Linked DNA regions of Homo sapiens. The protein of the gene in region 1 interacts with the protein of each later gene in a pairwise test. Each region holds a gene or a part of one and is shown on either strand. Other genes may lie near its edges.

Region 1 (3,916 bases):
GAGCCTTTAAAATAAGGCTCGGCATAGATCATAAGGCTCAGCATAGCTCAGGACAGTATTTACTGAAAACTTCCTAAAGCCAGTGGGGACAGGAAAATACTCTTTATGGCCTCTGAGTCTGGGACCCTTTGAGAACCTGTGTTTGGTGGCTTTACATAGAGTGAACATTTCCCATGAAGACTGTGCTTCATTAGACAAAAACTCTGATTTCTAAACTTTAGGGGAAATATCAGAAGCATCAATCCCTTGAAGCAGAGGTGCAAACAAAATCAAGACTCATGTCTGAACTGGAAAAAACAAGGGAAGAACGATTTACCATGGGTCATTCTGCCCACGAAGAAACGAAGGTATATGTATGGGCCCTTGAAGAAGTTTCCAATTATTGATTATGTTATCAGGGTTTTAACTGATTATATGAGATATAAACCTTGAGTGGCTGGCTTATACCCAGGACTCCTGCCTCTTATCTTCCCCTGGGGTTGAGGCATAAAAAATGATGGGATATCTTCGTGTTTCTTGGGGTGAAGAGAGCTGTGATATTAAAGCTGTCATTAAATGGCATAAAATTCCTCCTATAACAGTGCAGGATAATTTGGCTCAAGATCAAGCCCACTTAAACCTGTTCCACATTATCCAGATCAATTAGTTTTTTCCAATGTTCTTTCTAATTATTTCCTCTAACCTCAATGTCCTTGTCTCTTAACTTCTCCAAATAAGGAATGCTCTCTCATTTGAATGTTTTCCAAAATATTTTTCCTTTGTCTATGATGCCTCTTTCTTTTCATACACCATACCCTATGACTACTATTGCACCTCTCCAAACTGTCCCTTCTTATTACTTCTAAAAACTCCCAAATGTCATGTAGTCAGAAAATTTTCTCTGAACATCTAGAAATGAAGATCATCACTATTTCAATAAGGATTCATACTCTGTAATCTATTATTAATGTAACAGCTATTTTTGGACTTAATCTACGAACTCTTCCAAATGTTTGTGCTAATATTGTCAATTCAATTTTTTTGTGTGTGAGTGAACTTTTTACTGTTTATGTATTTTTTTAATTGTCAAAACAAATTTGCATTATATATCTTAAAACTGGGTCTGGCCTTTCTATATATAGCATAAAAATTCTAGCCCATTCTGTCATCAAAATATGGTCAACGGACACAGATTTTAGCCAGAATAGAATCTTATTTTAAAGAAGAACCCATAAAAGGAAAATTTCAAAACTTGTTTATTTGTATAAAGTATAATTAACTTTTGTATTATGCACAGTTTTGCATGTAACCAGCATCTACATTAATTACAATATTTGAGAAATGTTTGAAACATCTTCATTTCTGTCAGAATCACTGGGGCTATAGCAAATGGTACCATTGCGGGGTTTAACGACATATGTGGTCCACATGCTACCCAGAGCAATGGAGTAGTTGAAAAATATAAGATTCTTGAAGATATGACATAGGTGGCAATTTCAGTTATATAAGACAGGTAATACATAATGTTCTGAGTTAATCTGGCATTCAAAGCCCTCTGTAGATTCTCAAACTGTATAGTCCCAAAACACTGTTATTGTTTCGGTGCCAATGATTTCCTTATAACTTATAAAAATTATAGCTCTCACACTTTCTGGCAGACAATTCATGCTAAGTTTCTCCTATGCCTTTGCTATTGCTGTTTGCTCTTCTTAGAACATGTTATGCTTATGATTGACCTGTCAAAAATCTTTCTGCTCCATAAGGCTCAGTTCAAATGAACACTTTTCCATGCTTTCTTCCTCCTTCCCATCTTATTGTTTGTAATTATTCCATCCTTTAAAACTGCAAAGCATTTTTACAAATTGTTCTCTTATGTAAGATCGCATTTGGCTTGGCTTGTTAGCTATTTCCATATATCTATCCTATTTCCTCTTTTAAATGTTTGTTGAGCAACTAATGCATGAGTAACTGAGAGAAGAATTTTTATCCAGGTCTCTTTCTGCACAAGTCTCTGAGTGTTTCCCTGCTCCCAGTGTCTGTGGCTGAGTGGTTTTGCCCCTCTTTCCTAAAGGCCCATATAGAGGAGCTACGCCACCTGTGGGACCTGCTGTTAGAGCTGACCCTGGAGAAGGGTGACCAGTTGCTGCGGGCCCTGAAGTTCCAGCAGTATGTACAGGAGTGTGCTGACATCTTAGAGTGGATTGGAGACAAGGTATCGAACTTAAAACAGCAATCACACAGGGCCTCCCACTCCTCTGTCCCAGGTACCCCATAGCAAATTACTGCAGACTACTCACAAGGAAGTCAGGATGTCTGTTCCTGGCTTTGTTCTTTGGAACAAGAGGAAATTGGGGCCAAAATGTAGGGGTATCTGGAGGTCAACATTGTATGGAAGTAAGTCTTAACATATGGATCTGAATATGAAAAAGGCAAGACTTACACAAAGACCATGCATTGAAAGATAATTAGGCTCATCTCTCTTCCACTTCCATGATTTTTAACTCCTTCTCCTATGTTTTTGCTCTTACTCTGGGGTCTGGCTGAGAGTATTGACAGCTCTTTCTCTAATCCTTTGTGTCTCAGTGCCTATAAAGATGGAGGGTTTTATTTTTCTAAATACTAAAGGAATAATTTAATAGTTAGGACTAAAGATTTAGATAAGCAAATGCCTAACAAAATACTTTCGTAGATACTGATATGTTGAATTGAGTAGAAACAGGATGAATTTATCCCTCATGTTTCAAAACACAAAAGGGTACTTTCAGGGTCTCTTGCCAGTAATGCCACAAACTTGCTAAAGAACTGCCCGAAAGAGCACTTTCCCTTGTGCCAAGGTGCTACCTTAACAAATATACTTCTGCTGCTGGCCTTTTCCAGGAGAGCTTCTCCCAGTCTCCCCCAGTATCTCCATTTGAGTTATCCTGGGAATGCAAGCAGGAGTTTTGAGTTTTTGACCTACAGAAACTCCTAAATGTTTGCTGGCAACTCAATCAACTTCTGTGTCTACAGGAGGCTATAGCGACATCAGTGGAGCTAGGTGAAGACTGGGAGCGCACCGAAGTTCTGCATAAGAAATTTGAAGACTTCCAAGTGGAGCTGGTAGCTAAAGAAGGGAGAGTTGTTGAAGTGAACCAATATGCCAATGAGTGTGCCGAGGTGAGGTGGGAGCAAAATATTCACTCCGTGCAAAGGGTTCTTATCCTTAAGAATAACTTCTGGCCATTAGTAGATGGATATGAAGGAGATGGGGCATTGTGAGAAAACAGAGGTTGGCATGTTCCTGGAGTAACATATTCTGAACAGTTTCCTCTCCCCTCTGGACCCACCCCTTACAAGTCTATTGAAATGGAGGGTTGAGAGAGAAAGAGAGAGTGTGTTTTTGTGTGTTTGGAGAAATTAAATACACAATGGGCAGTGAAGCTATTGCCATTTATATAGTAGCTTCTGTACCATGCAGTACACTGATTACTCATGTTAATGGGGCACTCTTTCTTCATGAAAAAACACAAAAATAAAGTAGCAGAGCATATAAAATAATGTTGAGCTATCATTATTTATACATATATATGCATATGTAATATCATTATACAAGATTATTTCGGAGGATTGAGGAAGGAAAGGAAGCGGTTTTACTTTTATTTACTTAAGAAAATACTTAAGTTTGTGATGTGTATATATATATAAGTTTACATGTATATGTAAGTATATAGATGTAAAATAAATAAACTCCAACAGTTGGCTATATTTTGCTTTTCCATTTATAGTTTCATTATGATTGCAGCTCTATAGTGAGAATGATTTTCCTGACTTAATAAAAAGAAGACTTCAGAATGAATGAGTGCTGGAGTAGGAAAAATAACCTATGTTTTCCTATTTTTCTTTCAGGCCATATTTCCAGTAGTTTCTAAATTTTCTACCTCCATCACTTTTCTCTTGC
Region 2 (3,916 bases), about 67 Mb from region 1:
CTAAAACAGAAACCAACAACATATAATATTACAAGATATAACAGTATGTATATTATAGTTCCTGAGTTTAAGGACATCAGTAACTTGATTTAAAAAAAAAGAAGTCATGCTCAAACATACGACTCAAAGTTTTCAAGCCATATTTTACAAAGATTGTGTTTTTTGGTTCGTATGCTATAATTACTATTTAAACTCATCGCTTATATTTGAAAATAACTTGTGTGAAATCATCAAGGGAAAAGGGGTCAGTCGCCTAGAGACACCACATTAAACTCACTCTTTAAGGCCATCATAAATACAGGTAACTTGGAATCAGAAAAAAAAATTCAAATTCACAGTAAGCCTAAGTAAAAATTCAACAAAGATATATCACAATATATATATAAAAGCAAAATGGAAACACGTTTAACCTTGATAGAAAAAAAAAATGAAAAGCAAAGTTTAAAATGGAAACTACCGAAATTGAGAAAGAATTCCAATGACATGACATTTTCTTGCCAAAGCGAAGGAATTTGTAGATTATATCATTCAAATCTCATTGTATTACATTATAAAGGTCTTAGCAACGGTTGGCCATTAATCTTTAACACAAAGGAGATTCAAATCCAAATGAACTGTAAGACTATCTCTTCCAGGAGAGAGAAATGGAGTAATTTACTTTATCCACAATTGTTTAACCCAAAAGGAAGGCCTTTAAGGATGATAACGCAGAATGGATCAGCCTTCAGTCTACCAAGTCCCATTTCACACGAAGTCTTGCACCAATCCGAAAAGAGAAGGTTATGGACACAGAACAGGTTTAGGAAAGGCTGGAAAAAAAATCTCCAATGAATGACACACCACATCACGGTTTATTCTCCTACACAATTTGAGAAACAATAAAGAAAAATATCATACCATATGTTTCATCGTATCAATTAAAAAAATATTTTACGACAGTACATTCAATTCTTCGGGGCCGCAAAAATAATTTAGCTCCTGTTTTATTGAGTACAGAGCAAAGGGAAAAAGCAGCTGCTGCAATGCAACACAGGCTGCTACAGAGAAAGGGGAGAAAAGGCTTTTCCAAACAGATCCCTTCCCCGCCCCCGCTTACACACCCCTACCAACTTACTTATCCCAGTCTTTTACTGCCCCCACCACGTGAACCTAATCAATTCTTTCCCTTCCCCCACCATCGTGAAATTTCACCTTTCACAGCTCCTTCACCTACCCCTACCAGAGGCACTTTATTACCCGCAGAGATTTCAGACCTTTCAAACTTTTCTTCCTTTTTTAATTAAACACGAGAGTTCGGAGGCAAAAGTGCATGAAATTTTTACATATATACGAAAAAATACCTGTTTCCCAGCAACACGCACGCTTCGATTCTCGAACCCCTCCCCATCTCCCGGGTTTCGCTTGCAAAGGCTTGGGGGAGGGAGCCAGGCGCAAATTAAATTTAGGAAGGGAAATCCTGGGTGAAAGAAGAGCATTTGAGGAAAAATGAGAGAACGATGAAGCGAGACCCCCAAACCACACGGGTTGGGGAGGTTTCCAAGAAAGAAAGAGAAATTGGAAGGGACAAAAGGCGGAGGGGGGAGGAACAGACCGGAGACCAGGGGAGACGCGCCGGGCCGGGAGAGGGAAGGCGGGGTCCGAGGAGAACGGGGGTCGCGGCTCCCGCGGCACAATGGCCCGCCCGGCCCCCGCCCCGCGCGCCCCTCACCTCATGGTGCCGGCGGCGCAGAGGCTTCCCCACCAGCCGGGAGACGCAGAAGGCGCCGAGCCGAGGGGGGGGTCTCTCCTCCAGGGGTGGGGAGCAGCTCGGAGACGGGAGACAAGTGTCCGGCTCCTCCTTCGGCGGCCAGGGGGCTACACCATCTCCTCGCACAAAGCCGAGGCGCCGGCCGGGAGTGTGGGAGAAGAGGGCGAGAGAAAGGCTGGGGAGGGGGCGGAGAGGCCGAGGCGCGGAGCTGGTCCCCAGGCGGCCGCCGCCTCCCACCTCCTCGTGGTCCTGCTCCTCCTCCCGGAGCTTCCTCGGCCGCCCTCTGAGGGGTGCCCGCCGGGGCCGCGCGCCCGGCCGCCGCTCCACAGGCCCGCGCTCGCCGCGCCGCCGCCGAGGCCGTGTGCAACCGGCAGCTGCTGCAGCCGCGGGAGGAGAGTCGGGATCGCCGCGAGGAACCCGGGAGGAGGCGGGGCGCGCGGCGGAGGAACACGCAGGCGCCGCCCTCCTCCCCTCCTTCCCCCGGGGGCGAGGGGGCGGTGCGGGGGGAGGGGAGGAAAGGGGAGGCGGGGGGCCGGGCGCACTCCCCCGCGCCGGCGGCCGGGCCCCCGCCGGACTGCGGAGAGCGAGGCTGGGAGAGAGCGAGCGCGACGGCGGCGGCGGCGGAGAGAGGCTCTTTGTTGCCTCCCTACCCCGCCCCCTGCACCCCTCTGGGATTCGGGCGGGCCACCACCCCCCCCTCCCGCCCAACACCTCCGGCCAGTTGTCGGCCGGGGTTCCTCGCCCGTGGTTGTCCTTGACCGTCGGCCCCCTCCCCGTCGCCTCCCGCTCCCCAGAGGCTTGGGGAGCTCCGAGGCCTCCCCCACGGCCACGGTGCGGAGACCGAGGCGCCGAGACCTCCTGGGCGCCAGACCCGTAGGCACCGGCGTGGGGAGCTTGGACGCGTGACTGGGCACAGGGCCGGGCCAGGAGACTCCGGGTCGGCTCGCGGCCGGGTGCCCTCGCGCGGGGCGAGTGCTCAGCCCGCCCTGTTGCGGTCTCAGGACGGGGATGAGGGAATCGGGGGGCATCCCGGTCAGCCCAACTGCCCGCCCTCGCCGCGGCTGCGCCCAGCGATTCCTGCGGAGTTGAGGAGGGGCATATAAATGGAAAATATGGTCATCATTGTTCCCTTCGCTCCTTTTCTTCCCGAGGAATCCCAGCGTGCTGCGCCGATGGAACGAGTTGATGTGCACACTAGGTATAGGGATGACTTCATCCCCAAACGAACGCAGCCGACTCTCGGGGAAACGCAGTCGCCGGGAGACGCGCGCGGAACAGTGTGTTGCCGCAAGAGTGGAAGAAGAGAAACGCAGCCAGTGGAGCCGCTTTCCAGCGTCATTAGCAAAGAGGGAATCCCGGGCAGGGGGCGGGGAGAGAGAGGAACTAATGATAATTTTAAATTTTTCGTCATTCCCAATGGTCTTGAAGTCACCTCCCTTAAAAAGTAGATATAAAATACTGGCGAGGCAATTTCATTTCAAGTCAAGTCGGGGAGGAGGGCATCCAGGAAGCCAGAATTGATCGTTGTTGAAGGTTTTGTTTTCGGTTTTTTTTAAATCTAAAAACAAATCCAATAATAAAATTTTTAACTGTACGAATTACGGCCCCCTTTTAGTCCGGAAGACAGGGATGTACTTTCTGTATAAAAGGTGAGGAGGATAGAAAAGGGTTGTTGCTACAGGGATCCTATTGCTGAAGGATCTCATCCAAAATGGAGGACCTACCATGACTCCAGGAATCCATTCAAAAGTTTTGGTGTTTTGTTTTAAGATGCAGGTACCATTCAAAAGATAGTTAGGAAGGTTGGGATAATGTACACTTCCAAATGAAAAGACAGGTTATAGTGATCCGTGGTCAATGCCTGATTTGTCTATAATTGAACTGTGTAGCCCATTTTTAACCATAAAAAAAGCTTCCTGGTTTCAGCCGGGTGCGGTGGCTCACGCCTGTCATCTCAGCACTTCGGGAGGCTGAGGCAGGCGAATCATCTGAGGTCAGGAGTTCCAGACCAGCCTGGCCAACATGGCGAAACCCTGTCTCTACTAAAAATAAAAAATAAAAAAACAGCCGGGCGTGGTGGTGCACGCCTGTAATCCCAGCTGAGTCAAGAGAATCGCTTGAACCCGGGAAGAGGAGGTTGTAGTGAGCTCAGATCACACCACTGCACTC

Evidence for each region.
Region 2: the proteins of SPTA1 (region 1) and ENAH interact in a two-hybrid assay, tested with the Homo sapiens proteins (one study listed by IntAct).

Annotation. Positions count from the first base shown.
Region 1 is NC_000001.11:158,679,802-158,683,717, reverse strand, and holds part of SPTA1 (spectrin alpha chain, erythrocytic 1), read left to right. Parts: intron 1-221; coding exon 222-347; intron 348-2,050; coding exon 2,051-2,191; intron 2,192-2,988; coding exon 2,989-3,135; intron 3,136-3,916.
Region 2 is NC_000001.11:225,650,978-225,654,893, forward strand, and holds the start of ENAH (protein enabled homolog), read right to left. Parts: upstream 1,985-3,916; 5' UTR 1,714-1,984; coding exon 1,709-1,713; exon of another isoform or gene 1,388-1,708; coding exon of another isoform or gene 1,341-1,387; intron 1-1,340. UniProt on the Homo sapiens protein: Ena/VASP proteins are actin-associated proteins involved in a range of processes dependent on cytoskeleton remodeling and cell polarity such as axon guidance and lamellipodial and filopodial dynamics in migrating cells.